Linked DNA regions of Homo sapiens. The protein of the gene in region 2 purifies or fractionates together with the protein of the main gene of each other region. This does not show direct contact. Each region holds a gene or a part of one and is shown on either strand. Other genes may lie near its edges. The genes, in order: PNMA8A, ACOT7 and GOT2.

Region 1 (3,747 bases), on a different chromosome or scaffold from region 2:
GCCTCCCGAATAGCTGAGACCACAGGTGACCCCTATCACACCTGGCTAATTTTTTGCGTTTTTGGTAGGGACGGGGTTTTGCCATGTTGCCCAGGATGGTCTCGAACTCCCCAGCTCAAGTGATCCGCCCTCCTCAGCCTCCCAAAGTGTTGGGATTACATGCGTGAGCCACAGCACTGGGCATTAATAAACTATTAACAAAGTTCTTGCTCATGGGCAGCAAGGTTGAGGTAGGAGGCCCAGGGGACTCCACTGAGGATCACATTGAAGACTGGCCAAAACCTGGAAAAGGCACCGAAAGCCTCTCTCCATAAGACATGCCTGCCAGCACCATGACAGTTTACCATTGCCATGGCAACACCCATAAGTTACTGCCAATTTGCTAATTCTGAAAACCCACCCCTTAATTAGCACGTCATTAAAAGTGGGTATAAATGTGACTGCAGCCTTGCCCCGAGGTGCTATTCTCAGCACACTGCCTAGAGGGTAGCCCTCCTTGTTAGGTTTTGGAGGGAAGGTGAGGGTTAAAGACACACAGACAGAAGGCGGCTCAACAGCAACTCAGGTATACTGCAGACACCTGTGGAAGTGGGTAACCAGCCTAATGCCAGAGCCCACTGCTGCTTATAGGCTGGGGGTACTTATAGTTATGGGTGGGAGGGGTCTGAGCAGTATGGTTTGCTGCCCAGCAGGATGTTGATAAGATGGTTCCATGATGAGGCGGTTCTGGCCCTTGTTCTGGTGGAATGTGGTGTTCTCTGCACTTTCTCCCAGCAGAATATGATAGGGATGTTTCTTCAGTTGGGCCTTTGCACGATAGGGTATGATAATGTTTCTTTAGCTGGGCCTTTGTCCGCCTTGTGGTCAGGTGATTAGGCAGGATGTTTCTCATTGGCCCGAACCCCCGTGGAATATTTCACTTTGACCAAGATCTGCAAAATAGTCAGGGCTTACAAAATGGTTGCAGTTTGGACTAACACTTCTCTGTAGGGGCAGTCACTGAGCTGTAACATTGTCCCCTGCCTGGAGGATGCCAAGAACCTGCCCTGAATCACGTTGAGGAAACAAGAAAAGGCGAGGCATTATCCTCATGCTAGAAGGGGTCGGGGAGGAGACTAAGAAATTTCTAGAAGTTTCTGGAAATTCCTGGAAGAACCCAGCAGCTTGTAAGAGAGAAGGCTACAAGCCCAACAGGAACTGCACCTGCTGTTGGAGGAACCCAAGAAGATTAAAGCCTCGTTTTCCTCCTTTCTTGATTTCTAGTGTCTCCCAAGAGTTGCGTTGGGTGAATCCAACAGGTGGGGCAGAGGATAATACAGTCAGTGGGTGCAGCCATAGGTGTTGGCGCTTCTCATCGACCTAACCCCCGTTCGCGAGGCCCACTTGGGTTGAAAGAGGGCCTCCGTGGAGGCGCCACCGGAGTGTATCCAGACCCGCTTGCTCTGCGACCTGAACAGGCCACTCTTGCACCCGGCTCCCTAGGTCCAATTGCAGCGCCGGCGCGCCGGCCGGGCTCAGCCCTAGCAACCCACGCCCGGTTGCCATGGAGACGTCGGCACCTGCGCAGCCCAAGACCCCCGAGCGGCGGTGCGGGAGCCAGTGCGCAGGCGCGCGCTGCGACGCCAACCTCGGCTTCTCGCCGCTAACGGCATCGAGTCTGGACGCCCCGTGACCCGCCTGGGCCGGAGCGGGGGCGGACGGCGCCTTCTTGGCCCTTTCTGCCTCTAGCAGCGGCGCCGGGGTAGCCGGAGCCAGCGACTGGGAAACGGCTGCATTCCACTGCGTCTCCTTGGCCTGGCTGGGCGGTCGGAGGCTGATCTGCCAAGTAAGTCCCGGCTGGGCAGGCGGAGCGTCAGGCCCGGGGGAGGGTCCTAGGGCCTTTTGCTGCAGATTCAGGGACACGTGTGAGCACCGGGGCCTGGGTTGGGGAGGAGGGTGTTGGGAAAGCGCCAGGCCTCCTGCAGGCCAGCCGCGGAGGGGGCAGCTAGGATCTGTGAGCTTGGTCATCTTCCTGGGAACGTGACCTCGCTCCCTTGTCACCTTGCAGGATTACTGTTTGGAGACCGCTGCAGCCCACGTCCACCTGATAGACTATTTACTACACATAGTAGGTTCAGAGCCGCTAAATGTCCAAGACCATGGCGATGAACCTTCTGGAGGATTGGTGCAGGGGAATGGAAGTGGACATCCACAGGTCCTTGTTGGTCACAGGCATCCCAGAGGACTGTGGGCAGGCAGAAATTGAGGAGACCTTGAATGGGGTCCTCTCCCCACTGGGCCCGTACCGCGTGCTCAACAAGATTTTTGTGAGGGAAGAGAATGTTAAAGCTGCCCTCATTGAGGTTGGTGAAGGTGTGAATCTGAGCACCATCCCCCGTGAATTCCCAGGAAGGGGTGGTGTCTGGAGAGTGGTCTGTAGAGACCCTACCCAGGATGCCGAGTTTTTAAAAAATCTGAATGAATTCCTGGATGCCGAGGGGCGCACCTGGGAGGATGTGGTCCGCCTGCTCCAGCTCAACCACCCCACCCTGTCCCAGAACCAGCATCAGCCCCCAGAGAACTGGGCAGAAGCTCTGGGGGTGCTTCTGGGAGCAGTGGTGCAGATCATCTTCTGCATGGATGCCGAGATCCGCAGCCGGGAGGAAGCCAGGGCCCAGGAGGCCGCTGAATTCGAGGAGATGGCAGCCTGGGCTTTAGCAGCAGGGAGGAAGGTGAAGAAAGAACCGGGGCTTGCAGCAGAGGTGGGTTCTGCCTTAAAGGCAGAGACCCCCAACAACTGGAATGCCACGGAAGACCAGCATGAGCCTACCAAACCTTTGGTTCGCAGGGCTGGAGCTAAGTCTCGCTCCAGGAGAAAGAAGCAGAAGAAGAACTCCAGGCAGGAAGCAGTGCCCTGGAAAAAACCCAAAGGCATCAATTCCAACAGCACAGCTAACTTGGAGGATCCTGAGGTGGGTGATGCTGAAAGCATGGCGATCTCAGAGCCGATCAAGGGCAGCAGAAAGCCCTGTGTGAATAAGGAGGAGTTGGCTTTGAAGAAGCCCATGGCGAAATGTGCCTGGAAGGGTCCCAGAGAGCCACCTCAGGATGCCCGGGCAGAAGCCGAGAGCCCAGGAGGCGCCTCTGAGTCAGACCAAGATGGTGGCCATGAAAGCCCACCAAAGAAGAAGGCCGTGGCCTGGGTGTCTGCCAAGAACCCCGCTCCCATGAGGAAGAAGAAGAAGGTGAGCTTGGGCCCTGTCTCCTACGTCTTGGTTGACTCAGAAGATGGCAGGAAGAAGCCGGTGATGCCAAAGAAAGGGCCAGGCTCAAGAAGGGAGGCATCAGATCAGAAGGCCCCTCGGGGCCAGCAGCCTGCCGAGGCAACAGCCTCAACCTCTAGGGGTCCGAAGGCCAAGCCAGAAGGCTCTCCTCGGCGTGCCACCAATGGTGAGAATGATAGCAGAAGTGACTGGGCTCGTGCCAGCAAGTGGATGAGGCAGGAGGAGCAGGAGTGGCAGGTGGGGCAGAGGAGCCCGAGGAGGTGGTGGGTCAAGCGGGTGATGAGGAGGACCCTGGTGCATGGCAGGAGGTGGATGACACACCAGTTGAGGAGGGTAAGAGCCCAGACCGCCCTTCCAGGAGCCCCTGAAGGCCGATGCTGGAGACATCTGGTGGGCAGGAGGTGGCAGAGGAAACCCACAATGAGTGTCACTGTGGTCATTTGCCACTCCATCTGACCCATCTTCCTTGATGAGAATTTAATGG
Region 2 (3,647 bases):
GAGTCCGATCTGACACATGGGACCCAGCTGCCAAGGGGTCCTGTGTGACAGGAGACGAGGTGGCCAGAGGTAGACCCAGCACCATAGGCTTTTTTGTTCCTTTTACATTTTGAATCATGAGAATGGGTCGCCTATTTGAAGGATAAATAACATTGAAAAAAATTTTTTTTTTTGAGACGGAGTCTCGCTCTGTCGCCCAGGCTGGAGCGCAGTGGTGCGATCTTGGCTCACTGCAAGCTCCGCCTCCCGGGTTCACGCCATTCTCCTGCCTCAGCCTCCCGAGTAACTGGGACTACAGGCACCCACCACCACACCCGGCTAATTTTTTGTATTTTTAGTAGAGACGGGGTTTCACCATGTTAGCCAGGATGGTCTCGATCTCCTGACCGTGTGATCCACCCGCCTTGGCCTCCCGAAGTGCTGGGATTACAGGCGTGAGCCACCACACCTGGCCACTTTTAAATTTTTAAAAAGAATAGTTGGGCCGGGCACGGTGGCTCACGCCTGTAATCCCAGCACTTTGGGAGGATGAGGCAGGCGGATCATCTGAAGTCAAGAGTTTGAGGCCAACATGGTAAAACCCCGTCTTTACTAAAAATACAGAAATTAGCCAGGCGTGGTGGTGCACATCTGTAATCCCAGCTACTCAGGAGGCTGAGGCAGGAGAATTGCCTGAATCCTGGAGGCGGAGGTTGCAGTGAACCGAGATTGCACCACTGCATTCCAGTCTGGGCAACAGAGTGAGACTCCATCTCAAAAAAAAAAGAATAGTGATTGCAAAGAGCCATGTCACAACACGGGCAGATTATTTTTCCCATACTGAATGAAAAAGAATCAAGGTGAGAGTGTATTTAGTGTTTTGTTGTTGTTGTTGTTTTTGAGATGGAGTCTTGCTCTGTCACCCAGGCTGGAGTGCAGTGGCGCAATCTCAGCTCACTGCAACCTCCCCGTCCCGAGTTCACCTGATTCTCATACCTCAGTCTCCTGAGTAGCTGGGATTACAGATGTGCACCGCCACGCCCGGGTAACTTTTGTATTTTTAGTAGAGATGGAGTTTCACCATGTTGGCCAGGCTGGTCTCGAACTCCTGGCCTCATGTGATCCGCCCACCTCGGCCTCCCAAAGTTCTGGAATTATAGTCATGAGCCACCGCGCCCGGCCTAAAGAAGAATAGTGATTGCAAAGAATGTGTCACAACACAGGCAGATTATTTTTCCTACGTTGAATGAAAAAGAATCAGAAGGTGAGGGTGTATACTTAGTTTTTGCACAGCTATATTAGACTAAAACTGTGAAACGAGCCAGGCAGACGAACAAGTGAGACAACAAAACCCACCCCGATTCTTGGGAAAAAAGCCTGGAAAGACAGATCCCAAAATAGTAACCATGGTTATCTTTGAATGGGAGGAGTGACGTTCCCCTTCTTTCTACTTTTCTGTATTTCCCAAATTTTCCATAATGGGTATGTATGCATTTGTTCACTTTATATTAAGCAAATAATGCATGCCTATTGTGAGAAAATCAGAAGAAAGGAAGAAGCAGCTGGTGATCCCATCACTTGGGGAATCGCCTGCAGCAGTTGCTTTGGGCTGGACTCTGCAGGGCTCCTCTACATCCCTGTGCTTTTGTGTTTAGGAATGCGCGGTGCTAGGCCGGGCGCGGTGGCTCATGCCTGTAATCCCAGCACTTTGGGAGGCCGAGGCGGGCGGATCACGAGGTCAGGAGATTGAGACCATTCTGGCTAACATGGAGAAACCCCGTCTCTACTAAAAATACAAAAAAATTAGCCGGGCATGGTGGCGGGCGCCTGTAGTCCCAGCTACTCGGGAGGCTGAGGCAGGAGAATGGCGTGAATCTGGGAGGCGGCGCTTGCAGTGAGGGGAGATCGCACCACTGCACTCCAGCCTGGGTGACAGAGCGAGACTCCATCTCAAAAACAAAAAACAAAACAAAACAAAAAAACAAAAAATTAGCTGGGCGTGGTGGCTGTAGTCCCAGCTACTCGGAAGGCCCGCTGTAGTCCCAGCGGGCGCCTGTAGTCCTAGCTACTCGGGAGGCTGAGGCAGGAGAATGTCGTGAACCCGGGAGGCTGAGCTTGCAGTGAGCTGAGATCTTGCCACTGCACTCCAGCCTGGGTGACAGAGCGAGACTCCATCTCAAAAAAAAAAAAAAAAAACCGCGGTGCCAATAAATGGTGATACATTGGTTGCTTTCACAGTGGGGAATGAAAGCAAAGGCAAAGACCGTTTCCAGGGGGCATGTCCTGGGTGGGGCTCTCGGGGCTGGGCTGGCTGACCTGGGCTGACAACTGCCTCTGTCTCCACAGGAGCGCTGTGTGGCCGCCCTGGCTCGTGTCGAGCGCACCGACTTCCTGTCTCCCATGTGCATCGGTGAGGTGGCGCATGTCAGCGCGGAGATCACCTACACCTCCAAGCACTCTGTGGAGGTGCAGGTCAACGTGATGTCCGAAAACATCCTCACAGGTACTTCTGGGAGCGACAGTGTTGACTGGAGCAGTAAGGGCCGTGGCTACACAGCTGCTTCCCTCCTGAGGGCAGAGGACGCTCCAGGGCCTGGCCCCTTTTCCACCAATGAGACCTCTCTCACCTCCCACCATGGCCCTGGGAGCAGCTATGTCCATTGCCCTGATTTTGCAGACAGGAAAGGGGCACAGAGGGGTTAGGAAACGAGTTCAGTTACCCAGAGCAGGACTCAACCCTGCTGTCTGGGTCCGGCCTGAGCACATCATGCTGCCTGTCCTGCTGCCCGTGGCCAGCTCATCCATGGCAGGGGCTGGGCGCGGGCTGTGAGGCCGGTACGCACCATCCACCCCTCTGCAGGTCTCCCTGCCCTGCTTGCCCTCCTCAAGCGTAGGGAGGTGTTGGCTCCAGAGAGGACAGTGCTTGCTCCTGGGAGCCCCAGAAACCAGGCTCAGATGGAAGCTCACTGGGTGAACCTTTGCCTCTGCTTTCATCTGAATATTCTCCTCCTTGGCCATGGTAACCATGGAAACCCCCTTCCCCTTCCCACTGGGCGCTGCAGGAGGGGGCGGCTCCAGTGTTCACCAGCTCACGCTTCTTTTTATACCCAGGCTGGGGACGGGAGGTGAGGGGGAAGGCGGGCCTCTTCCCCTGCCCCTGGTCCTCTCCCTGCCACCTCCCAGGTCACCAGTCCTCCCATGCAGAGAGGCTGGGCCGGTTTCCTCCTCTTCCCCATGCCTGTTCCTCAGCAGTGGCTGCCCCGTGGAGTGCCAGCTCACAGCCATTTGAGGGGCTTGAGTCCTCTTCCTCATGACGGGCCGGTAGCAAGCACGATTATGCATCTAGAACATTCTGAGGACCTCAGCAGGGTTGATTAGAATGGCTGTGTCAGCCCAGCTCCGGCAGGTGGGCAGATGGAGCTGAGCAAGGGCCTGGGGTGGAAGGTGGTCTGCGTTCCCATTGCCTGCTGCTCCCTCAGCAGGCACCTCTGACATCAGAGGGACCCTGGATGCTGGTCTCAGGATGTGGCCCAGGAAGGGGTGTATGGGCACCTCCCACAACAGGAGCAGCGCCCACGACTCGGGAGAGGCTCAGGGCTGGGTGGGTTCCCCACTTTAGGGGCCTTGGGGGTTCCCTGCCATCTCCTGTGAGATCGCAGCTCTTCTCC
Region 3 (3,747 bases), on a different chromosome or scaffold from region 2:
AAAAGAAAAGAAAATTAGCAAGGCATGGTGGAATGCACTTGTGGTCCCAGCTACTTGGGAGGCTGAGGCAGGAGGATCACTTGAGCCTGGAAGATTGAGGCTGCAGTGAGCCATGATCATACCATTGTACTATCCAGCCTGGGTGATAGACTGAGACTGGGTGATGGACTGTATCTGAAAAAAAGAAAAAGAAAAAGAAAATGGGCCAGGCGTGGTGGCTCACACCTGTAATCCCGGCACTCTGGGAGGCCTAGGCAGGAGGATTGCTTGAACCTTGGAGTTTGTAACCAAACCGCGCAACATGGCAAAACCCCATCTCTACATTAAAAGAAAATTCATTTAATACACTTAACCTACCAAACATCATAGCTTACCCTAGCATACTTTAAACATGCTCAGAACAGGTATTAAACTACAGTTAAGCAAAATCATCTAACACAAAGCCATTTTATAACAGAGTGCTGAATGTCTCATGTAATTTATTCAATACTGTACTGAAAGAAACAAAATGGCTGTATGGGTACTTAAAGTACGGTTTCTATTGAATGTATATTGCATTTGTGCCATCATGAAGTTGAAAAGTTGTAAGTCAAGGACTGTCTCTACTCAAGTGTGTTAACTGCTTCAGTTGCCTTATGGAAATAGTGTTCCAATATAAAACAGAATGCTATAAAATAGCTTTCTTCCCTGGCCAGTGACAGCGTGTCACTCATTCGTGACCTGAGAATTGAGGCACACTAGGGGACTGCTCAAGGGAGGTAAAAATGCAGTGAACTCCAGCATATCGGTCAGTGCTTAGGCAGAATGAGCTGCATCTCAGGGTTTCTTTACAGGCTGCAAGAAGTGAAAGTCATGGCTGACCGCATCATTGGCATGCGGACTCAACTGGTCTCCAACCTCAAGAAGGAGGGTTCCACCCACAATTGGCAACACATCACCGACCAAATTGGCATGTTCTGTTTCACAGGGCTAAAGCCTGAACAGGTGAGTGATTCTGATTTCTCTGCAGCAGACCAGCTGATCAGTCTTTGCAAACCCGAAGGATTACTTTTTTTTCTTTTTTCTTTTTTATTTAATGTTTTCGGGTTTTTTGTTTTGTTTTGTTTTGTTTTGTTTTGTTTTTGTTTTTGTTTTTGTTTTGAGACAGTCTCGCTCTGAAACCCAGGCTGGAGTGCAGTGGTGCAATCTCAGCTCACTGCAACCTCCACCTCCCAGGGCTTAAGTGATCCTCCTGCCTCAGCCTCCCGAGCAGCTGGGACTAGAAGTGAGTGCCACCACACCTGGCTAATTTTTGTATTTTTTGTGGAGACATAGTTTCGCCATGTTGCCCGGGCTTGTCTTGAACTCCTGGACTCAAGCGATCCGCCTGCCTTGGTCTCCCAAACTACTGGGATTACAGGTGTGAGCCACTGAGCCCAGCCCCAGAAGGATTCTTCATAGATCACCCACCTGTTCAAAATTACCCTAAAAACAGTTAAAACAGTTATTTTGGAGCCCTTTTAGGTAAAAGTATTGTAATACTTTTTAGCATTTATTTTGCTTTTTTTTTTTAGTTGTTTACCTCTCTGTATCCCCCATGAACTCACAAACTTCTAAAGAGCAGAGCTTGTTTTGATCATGTTCATAATCACTGTTGCTTCTCCCAAGAGAGCAACAGGAGAAATAGCTGTTTCATAATTGAATCCTGGCTCTGCTGAATCTAAAGGTGTCTTTTTCCCCATCTGTTTATGCATCAGAATTCATCATCCTACTTTAAAGTAGCTTTTTTTTTTTTCTTTTTTTGAGATGGAGTCTCACTGTGTCGCCCAGGCTGGAGTGCATTGGCGCAATCTCGGCTCACTGCAGCCTCTGCCTCCCAGGTTCCAGGTTCCAGGTTCCAGCTATTCTCCTGCCTTAGCCTCCTGAATAGCTGGGATTACAAGTGTGAGCCACCGCCCCAGCCTTAAAGTAGCTTTTTATTCTTATTTTATTCCAAGCTAACAGCAAATTCTGGGAACAGGTTTTAAGCGAGGAAATAGAGCGTTGGTAAGTTGGCTACTGTGCCATGTCAGGCCGGGGAGAATCCCCTGTACCGGGAAGAGGTACCCAAGTTCTTTCCTCTCTGCAGGTGGAGCGGCTGATCAAGGAGTTCTCCATCTACATGACAAAAGATGGCCGCATCTCTGTGGCAGGGGTCACCTCCAGCAACGTGGGCTACCTTGCCCATGCCATTCACCAGGTCACCAAGTAATGTCCCTGGTGCGAGGAAACAGAGACAACCTTTCTGTCTTCAGCCTCTGCTATTGAGAGCTTCACACAGACAATGAGAGAGGGTGGATGGTGGTGAGTGGATCATTTCTTTCAGCCACAGTGTGTAACACTCAGCATTTGAATGTTTCTCAGAAAAGAACATGTAGTGACACAGGGCAGAGGCATCCATGGCTGGCGTCTGGAATATTAAACCAAACTCTCCCCGGTCCTTTTTTCTCCAACTTTTCTCAAAGAGTTTACATGTGCAAGAAAGTCATCGCACCAAAAAACCTGTCAATTATGCCATTGCAATATTTCAGAAGCTTTAACTGAAGTGTCAGGTTCCTCGTGAGAAACAGCACACGTTAGAGGCTTTGAGAGAAGGCCTAGTTCTGTCATGAGTAGTCGGCCTCGTGTCTGTCCTCCCATCTTGGAACAACCTTATCAACAGGCCGCACTGCAGAAATGATGTTTTATGAAAACCAATGAGGCTGCTGCCACTCCAGCAAGGGAAATAATGCAGTTTCCTGTCTTATTTAAGAAAAAGAGAAGGCTCTCTTTTCTCCCTTGTCATTGCCGTTCTTTTCCTTACACGCAAAGATTTTTTAACTATTGCAGATTTTCATCCCATTCTACTGCTTGATTGACCATCAACTCCATCCTATCGAGATTTATTTAAGAATGAAGAACATAATTTTCTGCTGATGCTGTACCCTCACCCTTTTCAGCAAAGAATAGTGGAGAGTAGGAAACTGTACTTTATCTCGGCATCCTCTTGAATGATAGTGCAAGTTTCTCCAGTTGGGATGTTGTCTCTGCCCGGTTGGACCTCCTCCCTTTGTTGAATGTGGTGTGCAGCCTCTCATCTCACACTGTGAGTCCAGCGGCGCAGGGTGGTACCAGGAAAGAGGATATTCTAGGCTTTGCGTGCTGCTAGCTGGGTTCAGGCTTCACCCACTGGAAAGAACCACCATCTGCTCTAACCATGTAGACTTATTGCGGCCTGGTTTCTCTGTTACAATAAAATTACTGTAGACCCAACTACTGTCTACTAAGTTATCTTTTTTCTTTAATGGGAGGAAGGGGTAGGAGTGGGTAAATAAATAAAGGGGTAGGAGTTTGGAATCGTGTAGCTGATCATAAGCCAGTAGATGTATCCACTATTCCAAATATTGGCTGAAGATTCGTCGTTTTCTTCATGTTGCCATTCAGTTTGTCCAGTCCGAAGATGCTGAGAATGTGGGTGTAATCCCTTGGACCTTGTGGGGAACAAGTGGAGTCCCATGAAGGATCCTGTGGATATAGGCAAAGGGTAGAAGGGGTGGAGGAGAAGTGACAACTTCAGTGGTCTATAGGAGCCAAGAAGGTAACGTAAATAAAAAAGTGTTGTGAACTGGATTTAAGTTGATCAGTGGTGATCAACCCTCATCCTCAGCATTGAGGAGCAGTAGTGAAGTGACAGGAGCTGTGAGGATGAACGCCCAAGGTGGTAGGTCTTACATTTTTCAAGAAAAATGG

What was found.
Region 1: the proteins of ACOT7 (region 2) and PNMA8A purify together in Homo sapiens (affinity purification with mass spectrometry, with the first as the bait; one study listed by BioGRID). This does not show direct contact.
Region 3: the proteins of ACOT7 (region 2) and GOT2 purify together in Homo sapiens (affinity purification with mass spectrometry, with the first as the bait; one study listed by BioGRID). This does not show direct contact.

What each region holds. Positions count from the first base shown.
Region 1 is NC_000019.10:46,469,415-46,473,161, reverse strand, and holds the start of PNMA8A (paraneoplastic antigen-like protein 8A), read left to right. Parts: upstream 1-1,598; 5' UTR 1,599-1,825; intron 1,826-2,047; 5' UTR 2,048-2,126; coding exon 2,127-3,429; coding exon of another isoform or gene 3,430-3,500; intron 3,501-3,747.
Region 2 is NC_000001.11:6,338,268-6,341,914, reverse strand, and holds part of ACOT7 (cytosolic acyl coenzyme A thioester hydrolase), read left to right. Parts: intron 1-2,325; coding exon 2,326-2,482; intron 2,483-3,647. UniProt on the Homo sapiens protein: Catalyzes the hydrolysis of acyl-CoAs into free fatty acids and coenzyme A (CoASH), regulating their respective intracellular levels.
Region 3 is NC_000016.10:58,706,654-58,710,400, reverse strand, and holds the end of GOT2 (aspartate aminotransferase, mitochondrial isoform 1 precursor), read left to right. Parts: intron 1-833; coding exon 834-984; intron 985-2,107; coding exon 2,108-2,230; 3' UTR 2,231-3,270; downstream 3,271-3,747. UniProt on the Homo sapiens protein: Catalyzes the irreversible transamination of the L-tryptophan metabolite L-kynurenine to form kynurenic acid (KA). As a member of the malate-aspartate shuttle, it has a key role in the intracellular NAD(H) redox balance.